Linked DNA regions of Homo sapiens: all the other regions are reported to be linked to region 1. The links are microRNA targets in miRTarBase. Many come from high-throughput screens and were not tested one by one. Region 1 holds a microRNA gene; each other region holds the end of a gene's coding sequence.

Evidence for each region. The annotated mature microRNA hsa-miR-593-3p reads UGUCUCUGCUGGGGUUUCU and lies in region 1 at 2,454-2,472, opposite strand. An mRNA with a match to its seed (bases 2 to 7 or 8) in the 3' UTR can be bound and repressed. Matches are read on the target gene's strand: a 7mer-m8 pairs with bases 2 to 8, a 7mer-A1 pairs with bases 2 to 7 and ends in A, and an 8mer does both.
Region 2: the mRNA of CDC6 is a reported target of hsa-miR-593-3p. Seed matches in the 3' UTR shown: 7mer-A1 at 2,679-2,685 and 7mer-m8 at 1,448-1,454.
Region 3: the mRNA of ZBTB8A is a reported target of hsa-miR-593-3p. Seed matches in the 3' UTR shown: 7mer-A1 at 3,197-3,203.
Region 4: miRTarBase lists ELOVL7 as a target of hsa-miR-593-3p. Seed matches in the 3' UTR shown: 7mer-A1 at 2,338-2,344 and 7mer-A1 at 1,602-1,608.

What each region holds. Positions count from the first base shown.
Region 1 is chr7:128,080,411-128,084,410 of GRCh38, reverse strand. MIR593 (microRNA 593) reads right to left here and starts at 2,550; the gene lies at 2,451-2,550. SND1 (staphylococcal nuclease and tudor domain containing 1) reads right to left here. Exons shown (of 24, transcript NM_014390.4): 18 at 2,910-3,051.
Region 2 is chr17:40,301,223-40,305,222 of GRCh38, reverse strand. CDC6 (cell division cycle 6) reads right to left here. Exons shown (of 12, transcript NM_001254.4): 11 at 3,615-3,755; 12 at 566-3,311. The coding sequence ends at 3,222. Among named protein-coding and RNA genes, the nearest start is that of RARA, 6.0 kb to the left of the region's middle.
Region 3 is chr1:32,600,117-32,604,116 of GRCh38, forward strand. ZBTB8A (zinc finger and BTB domain containing 8A) reads left to right here. Exons shown (of 5, transcript NM_001040441.3): 5 at 1-4,000. The coding sequence ends at 303. Among named protein-coding and RNA genes, the nearest start is that of ZBTB8OS, 48 kb to the right of the region's middle.
Region 4 is chr5:60,751,170-60,755,169 of GRCh38, forward strand. ELOVL7 (ELOVL fatty acid elongase 7) reads right to left here. Exons shown (of 9, transcript NM_024930.3): 9 at 622-3,664. The coding sequence ends at 3,455. Among named protein-coding and RNA genes, the nearest start is that of DEPDC1B, 53 kb to the left of the region's middle.

The sequences.
Region 1 (4,000 bases):
GATTAAGGAGGTGGAGAAAGAAAGTAGACAGGGAGCAAGGACAATCCAAACAGCCTCCTCCAGGGTGAGAGCTGGCCAGCCCGTACCCCATTCCTGCAAGGCCAGCTCCTGGCCTGGGCCACAGAGGTGGTAACTGACAGAAGCCACTGTCTACTGTCTTTCAGGGGGCAAAAGTAGGGATGAAGGATGGGCCCCACACCACCGTGGAAAAGGCCCCAGAATTGAAGCCATGGAAGGTGGGGGAGGAATTCTTGGATCAGGGCCTAGAGCCTCAGTATTATTCAAACTTGGCCCCTCTGACCCTTGTCACCCTGCAAGATACATGCTGAACAGGACTTCCAGTGCTGCTGGGCTGGGGCTGTACTGTCCCACCCTGCTACTCAGGGCCCCTGCGCCACAGGAGGAGGGATTCCCTGCCTTGTCTTTCCCTAAGCACTCTGACCTTGGGTCAGTGGTCCTGCTGCTTATTTGCTGCTTTTGCCTGTTTTAGCAACACCCAGGGCCTACTCAGTTTCTCTCCCTGGCTCCTTGTAGAATTCTCCCACCCTGACTCTGGGAGGCATCAGTCCCTTCTGGCCCTGATTCTAGCTCAGTCTCAGACCTTTTTTGCCCCTTGCGTCTCAGAAGCAAGGAGGGTGACTGTGGATCTGTGGTCTAAGTGTGGGGCTCCTCTCTTTATCTTCAGGCCCAAGGCAGTGCTGTAAGGAGGGCGCAACATATGTCTGTTGTTACACTTGCCACAGTCAGCCTTATAAGTTCCCTGCTACTATACTGTGAGCTCCTTCAGGGCATAGAGCATAGCTCACTTCTTTCTGTTTACTTGCACAAAGCCTGGTAGAATCCCCAATGCATGCAGGGTGCTTAATAATTCAGCTGCATTGAAAATAAACTGCATAAGCATGCAGGGATGTATGTCCACTCTTAAGCTGCTGCAGAGGCCACTGGTCCTGCATCCACACGACAGAGGCCTGAAGGTAGCAGCCGCCCCTCTCCCTACCCAGTGGTCAGCCCTCTATAATTCTCTTTAGACAGTGCTCCTTGCCATAGACAGTGAAATTCCAGGGATTAAGAAGCCTTGACAGACAGCTTCCTCCCTAACTTGGTCTACTTTCATTTTTTTTGCTCCAAGGCAACAGAAGCAGGACTTTGTCTCCTGCCAACAGGCAAAGCCCTCTGGGAGGTCCTTACAGAGCCTCACTGGTCATTTGCAGCTAATGGCAATGTTTTCGTCAGATCCCTCTTGAAGACAGACTCTAATTGAAAGAAGGGAGACAGGGTGAGAGGATGCCACCCAAGAGGGGATGAAAGGTTTCAGCAGAGAGGGGGCTGTGGATCCTGAGGTTCATCTCCATGGATACCATGGAGCCACCAGAGGGCAGGGGCCTTCCTCTCTGGAGCCCACCACAAATCCCCAGGTGGCCTGCCAGGAAGGGCCTCACTCCCTTCTCTTCCAGCATTCTAAGGACACATGGTTTTCTCTTTTCTCTTGTTTTCTGCCTCAGATTTCTGCTCTCTAAGACTTCAGGGGCTTGTTCTGAGTCAAGGCGGGTCCTCCCCAGCAGGACCCAGAGGCTGAGTAGAGCCTGCCTGGGAGTGATCGCATCCTTTTGCTCAAGTTCTCTGGTGGGCTGGCGGGGATTTTGGGGTGGTGGATTCCAGCTGGTTCCTCTGCCCAGGAACGGCTCTTGTTCCCACTGAGACCACCACTACAAGACTCCTTCCCTGTCACATGACCCAGCCCTAAAGGCTGGCCACCGCCCCGGTTCATTCAGGCAACTGCTGGAGCAGCTTTCAGCAGGACTGTGGCTGACCTCAAGAGAACCTAATCCCGCAGGCTCGTGGGCTCCATCTCTACCCCTCCCCCTTGCGTTTTTCCTTTTTCAAGCACAGCCAGCCCAGGGCCAGGAATGGTCAAGTTTTTCCTGGTGAAATGACACTGCCACAAAGGCAGCTGCCTGGGAAACAGCATTAGAGGGAAGTGGCTGAGACGGGGCTGGAGCGGACCTGGGGTGGGCTGAGGAGGCTGGGCAGAGCTGTGTCCTGCCATCTGGGGGACTGCCCAAGTGCTGCTGACACTTCTAGCCCCCTCTGTCCACCTGTGCCTACCATGATTTGTTTCCTGGGATCCAGAAGCAGCTCTAAGAGCTTTTCCTTCCGCTCCAAACTCAACTGTTTCCCTGCACAGGGTGGCCATGAGAAAAGGGAGGTCAGGGTGGAAAGCGTAAGCGGTTGGAGGTGTAGTCGGGCTAGCGGCTGCCAGAGCTCTCTCCTGCCCTTTGGCCTCCAGAAACCCCAGGTCTCTGCCCAGGGGACCCTGGCCACAGTGCACACCACTCAGGACGGAAGGAGGAGAAGGTCCTTCAGAGACTGCCCGGGGATGTCTTCCCCTAGAGCGCTGCCTGTTTCCATGGAAACTGGCTATCACTCAGGGCTATGTTAACCTCTAGAGAAGGAGAAACCCCAGCAGAGACAAACCCAGCACCACTCCTTGCTCCCCCAGAGGGAAACGGGCTGAGCAATGCCTGGCTGGTGCCTGACAGATTCTGGGGGCTACAAATCATCCTGCCCAGCATAGCCAGGGGTATGTAGGAACAAACAATCACCTAAGAGACTCAGAGCTCCACCCAGATAAACCTGGTTATCTCACCTGCGTCCAGAGGACCTGTCCGGCAGCACCTCCATGCCTGAGCCCAAGCCAGGGCTCATGTGAAGGCTCCTGAAGTAACTCCAAGCCCAGAGGAGCAGTGGGACAAGGCAGGGAGACAGGGGCGGCAACGTGAGCTCTTCAGGGGAGGCTCCTGGACTGCCTAGGCATTGTTCCTCCCACCCACTGGGCAGAGGCCCCCTACCCCCAGGCAGCGCCAGCTGGACCAAGCCAGGAACCACGAGCCAGCGGCCTGAGCACTCACCGGTCTCCACATCCTGCACGTAGAAGTGCAGGTCATCAGTGATCTCAGTCACAAACACGGGCTTGTAGCTAGCAGATCGCTCCTTCTCCTCCAGCACTGGCATCACCTCCTCCACGGGCTGCTCCTCATAGTGGGCCCAGACCTGCATGTTCAGTCGGCAGAGGTGAGAAGAGGGCGAGGAAGTGAAGTCATAAAAGACACTGGGAGGCCAGGCGTGGTGGCTCATGCCTGTAATCCCAGCACTTTGGGAGGCCGAGGCGGGTGGATCACGAGGTTAGGAGTTCAAGACCAGACTGGCCAATATGGTGAAACTCTATCTCTACTAAAAATACAAAAAATTAGCTGGGTGCGGTGGTGGGCGCCTGTAATCCCAGCTACTTGGGAGGCTGAGGCAGGAGAATCGCTTGAACCTGGGAGGCACGGGTTGCGGTGAGCCAAGATCATGCCACTGCACTCCAGCCTGGGCGACAGTGCAAGACTCCGTCTCAAAAAAGAAGAAAAAAAAAAGACACTGGGAAAGGGGTTTTGGGCAAATGGGATCGGCCCTGGGCGAGTGACTGTGGGGCACTCGATTCACACCAGGCTGAGCCCCTGAAGCCCTCTATCTCGGAGGGGAAAGGTGAGTTCTCTAAAGTCCTGATCTAGCAGTTCTCAAATTCTGGCAGGCATCAGAACCAACAAGGGAATTTATTAAAAATGCAGGCCCCAGATCCTACCCCAGGCCTACCAAATTACAATCTGTTCTGAGCATCCCAGAGAGTAAAAAAGAGCAAAACCAGATCCCAGGCTATCTCATGCACGTCCGAGTGTGAGAGCCCTGCTTTCATGAACTCTTTGGCTCTGGGCTCCTCACACCCGCACCTCTCTTGCTCCAGCTCCCCATCTCCCTTCCCCGTGGCACTCTGCAGGGCACTCTGAATTCTGCAGGACCTCCTGCTGTCACAGGGCTCCTGGTGCTCCTGAAGCAGTCCAAGCCACAGCCCTAGGCTGGGGAAGAGCTCACCAAGAATGCTTCTGCTCAGCAACTTTCCCTTTCTCCATCCTCCTCACCTCCAGCAGGTTGCTCTGACCTCAGCCCAGAAGCTGGGCCA
Region 2 (4,000 bases), not on the chromosome of region 1:
AATTCTCCTGTCTCAGCCTCCCAAGTAGCTGTGATTATAGGTGTGTACCATGGCACCCAGTGAATTTTTGTACTTTTAGTAGAGACAGGGTTTCGCCATGTTGGCCAGACTGGTCTTGCACTCCTGACCCTTAAGTGATCAGCCCGCCTTGGCCCCACAAAGTGCTGGGATTACAGGCATGAGCCATCACACCCAGCATTTTTTTTTTTCCTTTTTGAGACAGTCTCATTCTGCTGCCCAAGCTGGAGTGCAATGGCACGATCTCGGCTCACTGCAACCTCTGCCTCCCAGGTTGAAGCGATTCTCCTGCCTCAGCCTCCCAGTAGCTGGAATTACAGGAACACACCACAATGCCTGGCTAATTTATTTTAGTAGAGACAGGGTTTCGCCATGTTGGCCAGACTGGTCTCAAACTCCTGACCTCAGGTGATCCGCCCGCCTCGGCCTCCCAAAGTGCTGGATTACAGGCGTGAGCCACCACCCCCAGCCTGGACCTCACACATTCTTGCAGAGTTAGCTAGCCACAGGCAAGTCTCCATTGAGCCAGAAACATCTGTGGCAGCTCTGGGGTTGAAACACACAATTTATTTTGTCTATGCTCTTTCCATGGCAACACCCAACACTCTATGGAAGCTTAATCAGCTTCCTTGGGGTGGGGGAGAGAGATAAACCAGGATATAGACACACACTCCATCACCTTCAAAAGGAAGAATGTAGGTCAGCATCTTTGCCACTACTCTAAGTGAAGCAGCCTATGATCCTGGCAAAAACTGCTAACCACAAGCCCATCCCATCCCATCCCACTAAAACTCCTACCACCTTCCTGAAGCTCTCAGCTTCAGGGAGAAAAGCCAGCAAGGAAAGGGCTTTCTTCCTCAGCAGTCTGAATTACACTTAAGACTTTACTGACAAACATATATCAGCTTTTGCTCCCACAAGGGCAGCAGAAGCCAAGCAGGGACACTAAGTCTGCTTCATGCATCATTGACAGAACCAACCCTGTTCCAACTGCTAAAGTCTTAAGAGCAGCAATGACCTAGAAATTGACAGTGAGGGGAGAAGAAAAGGAAACTAACAAATCAGTAGACAGAAAACTCTATTTCCAAAACCAGGGGAAAGGGAAAGATAGAGGGGAAAGAAATTTGGCCCCTTTGAATCTACCAATGTGATTTTGGCTGGAAGCCAGGGAGGATACATAGCAGCCCCACTGCGAGTCAAGCCATGTTCCTGACTCAAGCCCTACAGTTAAGAGGAAGGCGCCAAGCCTCAAACACAATGAGGTGGGGAGGCTGCTCCTTATTGGGCAGGATCCTACTGTGGACACAGAACAGACAGCAGCTGCCCACAGTGTGGAAACAAACTGTAAAGCAGTCACGTCTCTTAAGGCTGCAGCATCCAATAAAATGTAATTTAAATCAAGCTTCGCATCTGTTCTCAATCCCATTCAGTCTCTGCTTTCCATCAGCCTTCGGACAATCTTTGCAATTATGCATGTTAACCCTTATAGTCCCAGACACTTTCCAACCTTCTAGGTATAGAACTGTGTTTCCATGTTCAAACTACCTTCAGAGGGAACGAATACTCTAGTAAAGGAGTGTGAGAACAACATTCAGACTCATGCCTACAGACTATCATGTGCTACACACACCAGTGGGTAGTGTTCATTTCAGAGGGCTCTCTCTGCTTTCCTTGCCTCTATCCCATACCACCTGTTGTAGCTCAGATCACATTACACGGATACAGTGGTCAGGATGAATGAAACAGTGGCCAACAGATCACTTGTACACATATCAAGTTCCAAATGGAAGGCCATGTCAGAAAGGTAGAGGCGGCAGCAGGAGAGCTCAGGGAAAAGCAGACTTGGTCACTGGCTCTCAGATCATTCGTATCACACATGGTTTACATTTCAAGCATTTGCTTCAGTTATGAAAGGACAGCAATCTCCCAAACAAATCAAACTAGAACTTCCCCCTTTCCCTCAAAACTACCTCAGCCTCAAGCATCCCCTTTCAAAGTAGTCAATGTTATAAGGGTGCCCTCTGGTGTCTCAGTCACAAATTGCCATTTAATGCCACCAAACCAAACCCAGAAGGCTCTTGATTAACCAACCATATGGACTAATTTATCTAATAAGACTGGAAAAATGTGTTTAGATGAAAACCCAACCCCAAAGTAGTCATCTTGAAACAAGTGGCTTCATCTAAGGGCAGCAAAGACTGTGGGACAGCCTAGGAAGGAATTTTCACATTGACTTCTGAAAGCTTGAGCTCTCTTGAAATCTGATTGCTTAAAAAGACAAAGAATGCAACTTGAAAATAAATATATTCACAATCTGTAGAGTTATAGTCTCCTTATGACCCCAACGCCCTTGGGAGTGCCCAAGAAACTCAACGAGTCTAAAATGCCACAATGTTGTAGTATCTGCACCATGAACATAGTATACTATACAAAGAAATAAATTCTTTAACCAGTGTCCTCCAAATCTCCATGTGGACTTGCTTGCATTTTTCTGGATCATTTTCATTCTTCTTACCCTAAACTTAAAGTTCTTAACAAAATACCTTAATGGCTGAGCATGGTGGCTCACGCCTATAATCCCAGCACTTAGGGAGGCCAAGGTGGGCAGATCACTTGAGGGTCAGGAGTTCAAGACCAGCCTGGCCAACATGGTAAAACCCTGTCTCTACTAAAAATTAAAAAATTAGCTGGGCGCGGTGGTGGGCACCTGTAATCCCAGCTACTCGGGAGGCTGAGGCAAGAGAATCACTTCAACCTGGGAAGCGGGTGCTGTAGTGAGCAGAGAACGCGCCATTGCACTCCAGCCTGGGCAACAGGGTGAGACGCGCCTCAAAAACAACAACAACAAAAAAAACAAACAAAAAAATACCCACTCATGTTTGAGCAAACGAAGAGGTAAATATACACACATTCCTCTACACAGATCTGTACACTTGCAAGCACATTGGCTAGAGATACACAAGTGGTAGAAGTAGTGAATGTAATTAAAAAGGGTCTACCTGGTCACTTTTATGGGTAAAAATAGTAAGACCCAAAGATATTATTCTGTGCTAATATTAAAGAATCTATAGATTAAAATTCATTGGCTTCAAGTAAAAAAGGTCATATTTGTTTTCAGGCCCGAATGTGTAAAGCACTAAAATGAAGACTGTAGCTCTCTAAATGCCAGCTGAATACTTTCGGGTGGGGTGTAAGAGAAGAATTTAAGGCAATCCAGTAGCTAAGATATTTCCAATTAAAGCTTTATCTTTCAGAGCATGTTCTATTTCTTTCTCTTCAATCTTGAAAAACACCTGGAAAGAAGAGAAAAGGATTTTTCACACTGGGGAACTCACAAAAGCAAAGTTGTCAGTATACAAACTTCTACCATATTAAACTTTTTCTCACAAAAGGCAAGCAAGTTAAACACTTTTTTTTCCAATGGCTTGAAAAAATATTCATATCACACTCCCATCTTTACACACCTTAAACCTTACCTAACAAAAAACGACTTGTTTAACTAACTGTGGTCATCTTGTTTAACAATAAACCTTTACTTTAGCATCACTCTACAAAATAGGACAATTAAAAACACTGTCACAAAAAAGCAGTTGTACCTTTGTCAAACGGGTTTCCTTGTTTCTCTTTAATCCTAAAATGCCCCTGGCTTCCAAGAGCCCTGAAAGTGACAAACACTCTGACTGGTCCACAGCCGCCACCTGCTGTTTGCGACAGACTTTACTGTAGGCTTCATATAACTGGTAGGAAACAAGGGAGAACAAACGCTGCTTAAAAGTCACATTGCTTATAGCCTTTAATCATTTAAGAAACCTGAGTCTGGGTTTGCAAAAACTTATCTGAATACCCTATTTCTTCCTCTTTTCAATAAAATCTTTGAACAGGCTTCTGTAGATATTCCCGAAAACCTATACAGTAATGTAGGAAAGGGGCTTTATATATTTCCTAGAGAGATGCAGAAATGAAGGGGAGGATAGGGAAAGGA
Region 3 (4,000 bases), not on the chromosome of region 1:
AAATGTAAACGTCATGTGACAGATCTAACAGGGCAAGTGGTACAGGAGGGAACCAGGCGCTACAGACTGTGTAATGAGTGTCTTGCAGAATTTGGCATAGACAGCCTCCCCATTGACTTGGAAGCTGAACAACATCTTATGTCCCCATCAGATGGAGATAAGGATTCCAGATGGCACTTGAGTGAAGATGAGAATAGATCCTATGTGGAGATTGTAGAAGATGGGTCTGCTGATCTGGTCATCCAACAGGTTGATGATAGTGAAGAAGAAGAAGAAAAAGAAATTAAGCCCAACATTAGGTAGCTGTAATGTGAACCAACAGAGCTGGCATGTCTGCAATTTACATTGACTTCCTGTATCTCTCTCTTTCTATGGTCGGAGTCTAGTTAACAAATTTATCACACTGACTTTAAAGAAATGATCTGATATAACTTGCATGCTTTCTGAACAGGCCATTGTATCCATTCTGAACTTTGTTGCCCTAAAATGTGTTGCTGCACTGGAAAGAAAGAACTAGCTTGAGTTGGCTTGATGGATGAACAATTATCCTCTTACTTTCATTACAATCCTCTTACTTTATTCCAGAGATACCTTTTTCTTTTAATATTGGAGGATCTACTTAGCAAACTTTTTTCAAAGAAAATACTTTAAATAAATTCACCACAACCAAACTTTATGTAAGACAATTTCAAGGTGTTTCAAAAACACATAACTACCAATGTTTAATTTCACAGGGAACCAGTTAAGAGCACATTTAAGGATCTGGCAACCCACCTTACTAAACAAATTAGTCTTTCTATTAATTTGAGATCTGAAACAACCTGTCATTACTCTGATATCCTGAACGTTTAAGGATTATGGAAGAAGACTAAAGTGTTTGAAATCATTCATATTTGAAATTTTTATCATTAGCTTAAAAATTACTCTCAGTATTGTTAAAAAAAAAAAAAAGTAGAGGCTGGCCAAAGATTATATACAGATATTTTCTTAAAGCAGGAAACTAATGTTGCCTAAAAGTCAAGGTAGTTTGTGAAGACAATCTGTCAATATGGTTGTCCATCTCTCTAAAGAAAAGCAGGCTGGGCGCTGTGGCTCATGCCTATAATCCCAATACTTTGGGAGGCCGAGGCAGGCGGATCACAAGGTCAGGAGTTTGAAACCAGCCTGGCCAACATGGTGAAACCTCGTCTCTACTAAAAAATACAAAATTAGCCGGGCATGGTGGCGGGTGCCTATAATCCCAGCTACTCGGGAGGCTGAGGCAGGAGAATCGATTGAACCTGGAAGGCAGAAGTTGCAGTGAGCCGAGATCACACCATTGCACTCCAGCCTGGGCAACAAGAGCGAAACTCCGTCTCAAAAAAAAAAGGAAAACAAACTAGGAGGTTCTTACCATATGTGAGTGATTTCTAACGTTTATGTAGTGCTATATTATTTATAAAGTACTCTCTCATGTATTTTCTCAGTGAGGTGGATACTATCTCCGATTTACAAATGAGGAAATTAAGGTCAGAAAGTCTGAGAGAGAAAACTGATGATTGGACAGGATCTGATTTTAAACAATCCTCTTTCAGCCTTCTCTCCCTGTATGTCTCCTGAAATGGCAAAGAATAGAAGTCAAACCTCACCAGTTGGCAGTCATTATAAAAATAAGCCAATCAGAATTAGAAAGTATGAAAGGAGGAATTGAATCATTTTCAACAACATACAATATCTTGATCTAGAGATTTTCAAATAATGCTAAGTAATGTCCCTACAGTACCTATTGGTATGTTTTTATGTCACGTTATTTATATGTAAATTTAAAGTATAAAACTATTTGAACAAATTATTCACTTAAATATGTTGAACATTTTTGCTTCTCTTGTTTATATAATATTTTCAAAACAAACTTTTCTCCTAGTATACAAAGTTTAAACTTCTCCCCTTTGGGCTGGGCCCAGTGGCTCACGCCTGTAATCCCAGCACTTTGGGAGGCTGAGGCAGGTGGATCACCGAGGTCGGGAGTTTGAGACCAGCCTGACCAACATGGAGAAACCCCGTCTCTACTAAAAATACAAAATTAGCCGGGCGTGGTGGTGCATGCCTGTAATCCCAGCTACTCAGAAGGCTGAGGCAGGAGGATAGCTTGAACCCAGGAGGCAGAGGCTGCGGTGGGCTGAGGTTGCGCCATTGCACTCCAGCCTGGGCAACAAGAGCGAAACTCCGTCTCAAAAAAAAAAAAAAAAAAAACTTCTCCCCTGCATAAATTATGAAACATTCCAAAATTACAGCTAAATTAGAGAAGCATTGTTTCAGTTCTAAAGGTAAAATCTAAATATCCGAAGTAAAGAACTGAGCTTCATAAAGGTCTCTTCTGCAAGTTATCACAGTGAAGCTTGATAGAATTTCACTGTATATGGAGAGGCTCCATCTATTTTACTGTTTTCTTTTTTGTTTTTGTTTTTTTTTCGAGACGGAGTCTCGCTCTGTCGCCCAGGCTGGAGTGCAGTGGTGCAATCTCAGCTCACTGCAAGCTCCACCTCCCGGGTTCTCGCCATTCTCCTGCCTCAGCCTCCCGAGTAGCTGGGACTTACAGGCGCCCACCACCACTCCCAGCTAATTTTTTGTATTTTTAATAGAGATGGGGTTTCACCGTGTTAGCCAGGATGGTCTCAATCTCCTGATCTCGTGATCCGCCCCCCTCGGCCTCCCAAAGTGCTGGGATTACAGGCGTGAGCCACTGCGCCCAGCCAATTTTACTGTATTTTTAAATGCCATGACATACCTCAAAATTATCCTTTTTATGTTACTATTTTCTCTTGTTCTTTCATTAATTATTGTCCTTGATACCAATTTCTAGGCTAAATTGGTTACTTTCTTTTAAAAAATTTAAAAATAGATGAATAACCACTTGTTTCATGGTACTTAATTGAGACTTTTTCAAGATTCCCCTGATGGCACATTTGCAGTTGCTTCAAGACTGGATGATGTGCATTGAGTTCTCTGTTCTCCCAACATGGCTGTTCCTAAATCAGGATTCTGGTTTTTTTGAGATGGACTCTCGCTCTGTTGTCCAAGCTGGAGTGCAGTGGCGTGATCTCGCTCACCACAACCTCTGCCTCCCGGGTTCAAGCGATTCTCCTGCCTCAGCCTCCTGAGTAGCCGGGACTACAGGCATGTGCCACCATGCCTGGCTAATTTTTGTATTTTTAGTAGAGACAGGGTTTCGCTATGTTGGCCAGGCTGGTCTCGAACTCCTGACCTCGTGATCTGCCCGCCTCAGCCTCCCAAAGTGCTGGGATTACAGGCGTGAGCCAGCACGCCCGGCCTAAATCAGGATTCTTAACAATTAAAGTGTATCTGAATGAGGAAGGAAACGCTTGTCATTCTCTAGTCTTACCCAATTAATACTGACACCTTTTGAAATTAAAACCTGATTTTTTAGTTGTTGGAGCCAGTAGGAAAAATGGCTGATTTGAACTTTTTTCCTATAAATGAAGTAGTGCTTGCATGTGTGTACTCTAATGCACTTTAGTCTATGATCTAAATGTCCTTTTATGCTATTATCTTCTGCATGCAAACTTTACATACATCAGCATGAATATCCAACATTCACTGAACACAGTGCCACCAGCACTTGTAATTGCCTTTTCAGAAATAATGCTTTCTCATAATTGTTTATAACGAGCATCAAACTATCCCCACAAAATGATCAAGTTCACCAAACTAGACAAAGAATCTGTTGTATCATTTTAACATCATAGAAGAACATTTAAGACATGTTTGTAAGTTGTAAATAATGACTCCAGTTATAGCATATATATCTAAGACGTTAGAGACCAGTTATTTTCTAGAGTGAAACTGTCTATTGATGATTGAGAAAATTGAATTCTTTGGTTTTTACATGTGGGCAAATGTTACATAGGGGTATAATCTGTTTAAATAAGCTTTATTTATGCCAAGGATTTTTTTTTTAATATCAAGACTTGGTTAGACCAAAGTTTGCTCTTGCAGGAAT
Region 4 (4,000 bases), not on the chromosome of region 1:
AGTAGTTTAGATACAGAGGATTTATTAGATTCAAGTTCAAAAATTTTTTTGCCACGAATACCTCAGAGTATTATAGTGTATTATGAGACAAAACATCTGGTTGTCCCACTTTGAATGATATTAAGATTGATCACTGGGTTCAGTCATATCAGCACAAGCCATCCCCATCAACCTTTCATCTAATTGTTTTAGCAACCAGTGATCATTAGCTAGTCCCATTTATTAGAGACAGTGGGGATGGCAAAATATTCTTTTTTGTTAATTCTTTCCACTTAAAAAACCTTGCCTACTAACATACCACCAATTTTGAAATTCTGTACAACCTAAACACATAACTCAAATTCAAATTCCTTCATAGAGTCTTCCCTGTCTGCTAAGTGGCAGAACTGTCACTCATCTGGCACCTATCATCTACTGCCCTGTCACATAATTTCATCTGCCAGTTGGTAAGCTCCAGGAGATCCCAATTATGTTCTAAGTATCTTTGTATCCCAAAGATGAACACAGCACGTATACAAGAAATATGTAAAATAACTTTGATTGGTGAGTATTCAAATTAAAAGTCACCAACCCATGCAAATACATGCAGCTAGATTCCAAAATGAAAAATATACACACGTATACATGCAATACCACAAATTTATTATAATACACAGGGAAAAACAAACTCAAACTTTGACAACATCCACAGAATGTTCCAGTCTTTAAAAAGTTAGCAGAAATAAAGGGTAATGGAAAGAATATAATCTCGTAATTTTATACTTAAGGCTGTAAATGGCAAAGTCCCATAGATATTTAAAAATCTATATTTGTATTTATTTATAATATAGATATAGGCCCTCAAGGATTCATAGAGATTTATGTAATAAACTAGATTTTGGAACTATTTATTTTGTTGTTGTTGTTGCTTGTTAGGTAAGCAAACCCAAACAAATTAAGTCCTGAAAAGTGGGATGAAATCCCAAAGGAACTCTATGTGACCACACAGAACTCTTTTAATAAATATGGCCCATACAAATTCCATATCCAGTGAAAATCATTTTGATCCACAATCATGTTGATGTTTCTATGGAGGATACTTCTAGCAGCTGTGATTTCTTTTGTAGCATTCTGGCTCTCCACTTCTATTCATATAATTGAGTATGTGTTTTATTACATGTTAGCTTATAGGCAAGTTAAACATTTTAAAGACTACAGGGAGGTTAGGAGAGGTTGTATGATGAAGGTCGGAAAGTATGCAAGAAATAAACTCTCCTGTTTCATCTCTTTTATTTTTGCCTCATTTTGGTCTCTATACTACTTGGGTTCTTTGGAAATGGTGTGATTTCTAACAGCACCTAGCATACCTTCTCATTTTAGCACAGGTTAGATATGAAGAGCCAAACCTGGAAAACAGTTAAGGAGTCCTGAGACCTTTCCAGTGGAATAAATTAGAGCAGCAGTTTCATTTAGCTGTGCTCTTTTGTCCTTCATTCTTTATTTTCTAAAAATATAAAATTATGGCCGGGCACAGTGGCTCACCCCTGTAATCCCAGAACTTTGGGAGGCCGAGGTGGGAGGATCACCTGAGGTCAGGAGCTCGAGACCAGCCTGGCCAACCCTGTCTCTACTAAAAATACAAAAATTAGCTGAGCATGGTGGCGGGCACCTGTAATCCCAGCTACTTGGGAGGCTGAGACAGGAGAATCACTTGAACCTGGGAGGCAGAGGTTGCAGTGAACCGAGATTGTGCCATTGCACTCTAGCCTGGGCAACAAGAGTAAAACTCTGCTTCAGAAAAAAAAATAATAAATTATATATATATATGTAATTACTCCCATTTATCAACCTTTACCTTCTCATGCTGTAATCAAGTAAAATCACAAAAGATCACTTAAAGGCAAATAACCTTATGAATCTGGTAAGTGTAAACATAAAAATACTTACTGTACACAGAGTACAATAAGTATCTCTGTGTGTTCAAAATTAACTGGGGCTTTAAGTACTAATTGTTTAAAGTCCTACAAACATAAACAGTGCTTCAAAATTGAGTATAAATAAAAGAAGAAAAAAAATAGGGAAAAATTCACAAATGTCCAAATATTATTTCATGGACAAAACTCTACTGACTAATAGTTTTGATTCTCTGACAAGAAAATGTAAAAATAACAGAAAGAAACTAGCAATTTTAAAGAAACAAAGTGTATGCCAAACGAATTTCAGTCCTTCATTACATGGTTTATAGGTCTGGAAACAGAAATCCAGGTTGTTAATTAATTCATAATTCCAGAAAATGTTTTATTGTTCAGTGTATCTATAACATTAATTATATAATATATTACTATTATGTAGTCTGTCTGTCTCTCTCTCAAAGTAGAACAGCCCTTGCTTACATAATCAATTTTCCCCTGGATATTCTCTGTGCCACAATTTGCCTCTAGTTGCTTCACAGCCACTCTAACTCATATCTGGAAACTGTGTACAATGGGTAATATTATTTATGATTTAAGGGTAGTACCTGTAGTGTGCTAATAATATGAACATTTAAGTATCTAACCTATATATTTCACCAAGATAATAATTTAAACCATGACAATGTAAGAAAGTGATGTGATACTATAACAGACAACAGGTTTTTCCCACTGAACTACACAATACTTTTTTCATTGACAAATTCACCTCTTTCCAGAGATATACAAAGTTAATTGTAAAACAGTAATAGCAAAGTATTCATTAACCCATTAAAACAAATCACCTTGTTTTGAAAATAATCAACTGAATGAAACTTGGTATCAAGTGTACTAACCCAAAGGATTGCTACTTTGAAACAGTTTGTACAACAAATGGGTTGTGAGGAAGTCTTATCAGCAAAACTGGTGATGGCTACTGAAAAGATCCATTGAAAATTATCATTAATGATTTTAAATGACAAGTTATCAAAAACTCACTCAATTTTCACCTGTGCTAGCTTGCTAAAATGGGAGTTAACTCTAGAGCAAATATAGTATCTTCTGAATACAGTCAATAAATGACAAAGCCAGGGCCTACAGGTGGTTTCCAGACTTTCCAGACCCAGCAGAAGGAATCTATTTTATCACATGGATCTCCGTCTGTGCTCAAAATACCTAATGATATTTTTCATCTTTATTGGACTTCTTTGAAGAGTACTGTATTGCTTCATATCTTTTTTTCACTGCAACAAAATGTTTTAAACAAAACCTTTGGATTAGGTTTAAAAGCAGCTAAAAAAACAAAAACAAAAACAAAAACAAATTCTGGCTGCTGTAGGCTCTAATTATCAGAAGACTGTTATCTGGAAGCTTCGGGCTCTCAAATATCAGACATCCCAATAACTTACCATAAAAATACAAGCTCTTAGTTTTGAAAAATATACAAAATGCACTGCATAGGTAAATATCTCTTGATTGTCAAGGAAGACAATGTATCAGTTTCGATCATAGACTTATGTTGGGCTTCAATTATCTTTGTTTTTGCAAGTTCCATTTTTCACAGTTTTGGGCAACCTCTGACCTTTGGTGTAAGCACGGTACCAAAAATGGAGAAAGAGCAGCAGAAACATGAAACTGTAACTCATAATGATGCACGCAAAGACTGGAAACTGATACTTGCAATCCTCCATGAAAAAGAACTGGCTTATGTGGATGGCGACAATAACAAACTGGACCTAAGAAATGAAAACGTGAAAAAAAATTATTCAGATATGAAGAGTTAACAATTCTTTACCTACCTATGTTTATGCACTCCCAAAGTGCAGGGAGTGCACTATTGGGCAAAGAAGTCCATCTTTAAATCTAGCCTCCCTGAGAGTGATAATGGGTGGTATAATGTCAAAAGCCAGTTGGAAGTATGGATCCACTATTCAGAACCACAAAATTGCACAACCGCAGGGTCTATATTTAAATGTTCCCTGGAGCTGTGCAGTGCAGCAACCTTTTTACTACTCAGAGAATCAACAGAGCAGGTTTTCTCTAACAGTCTCTGACTTGAGTCCTTGACTATG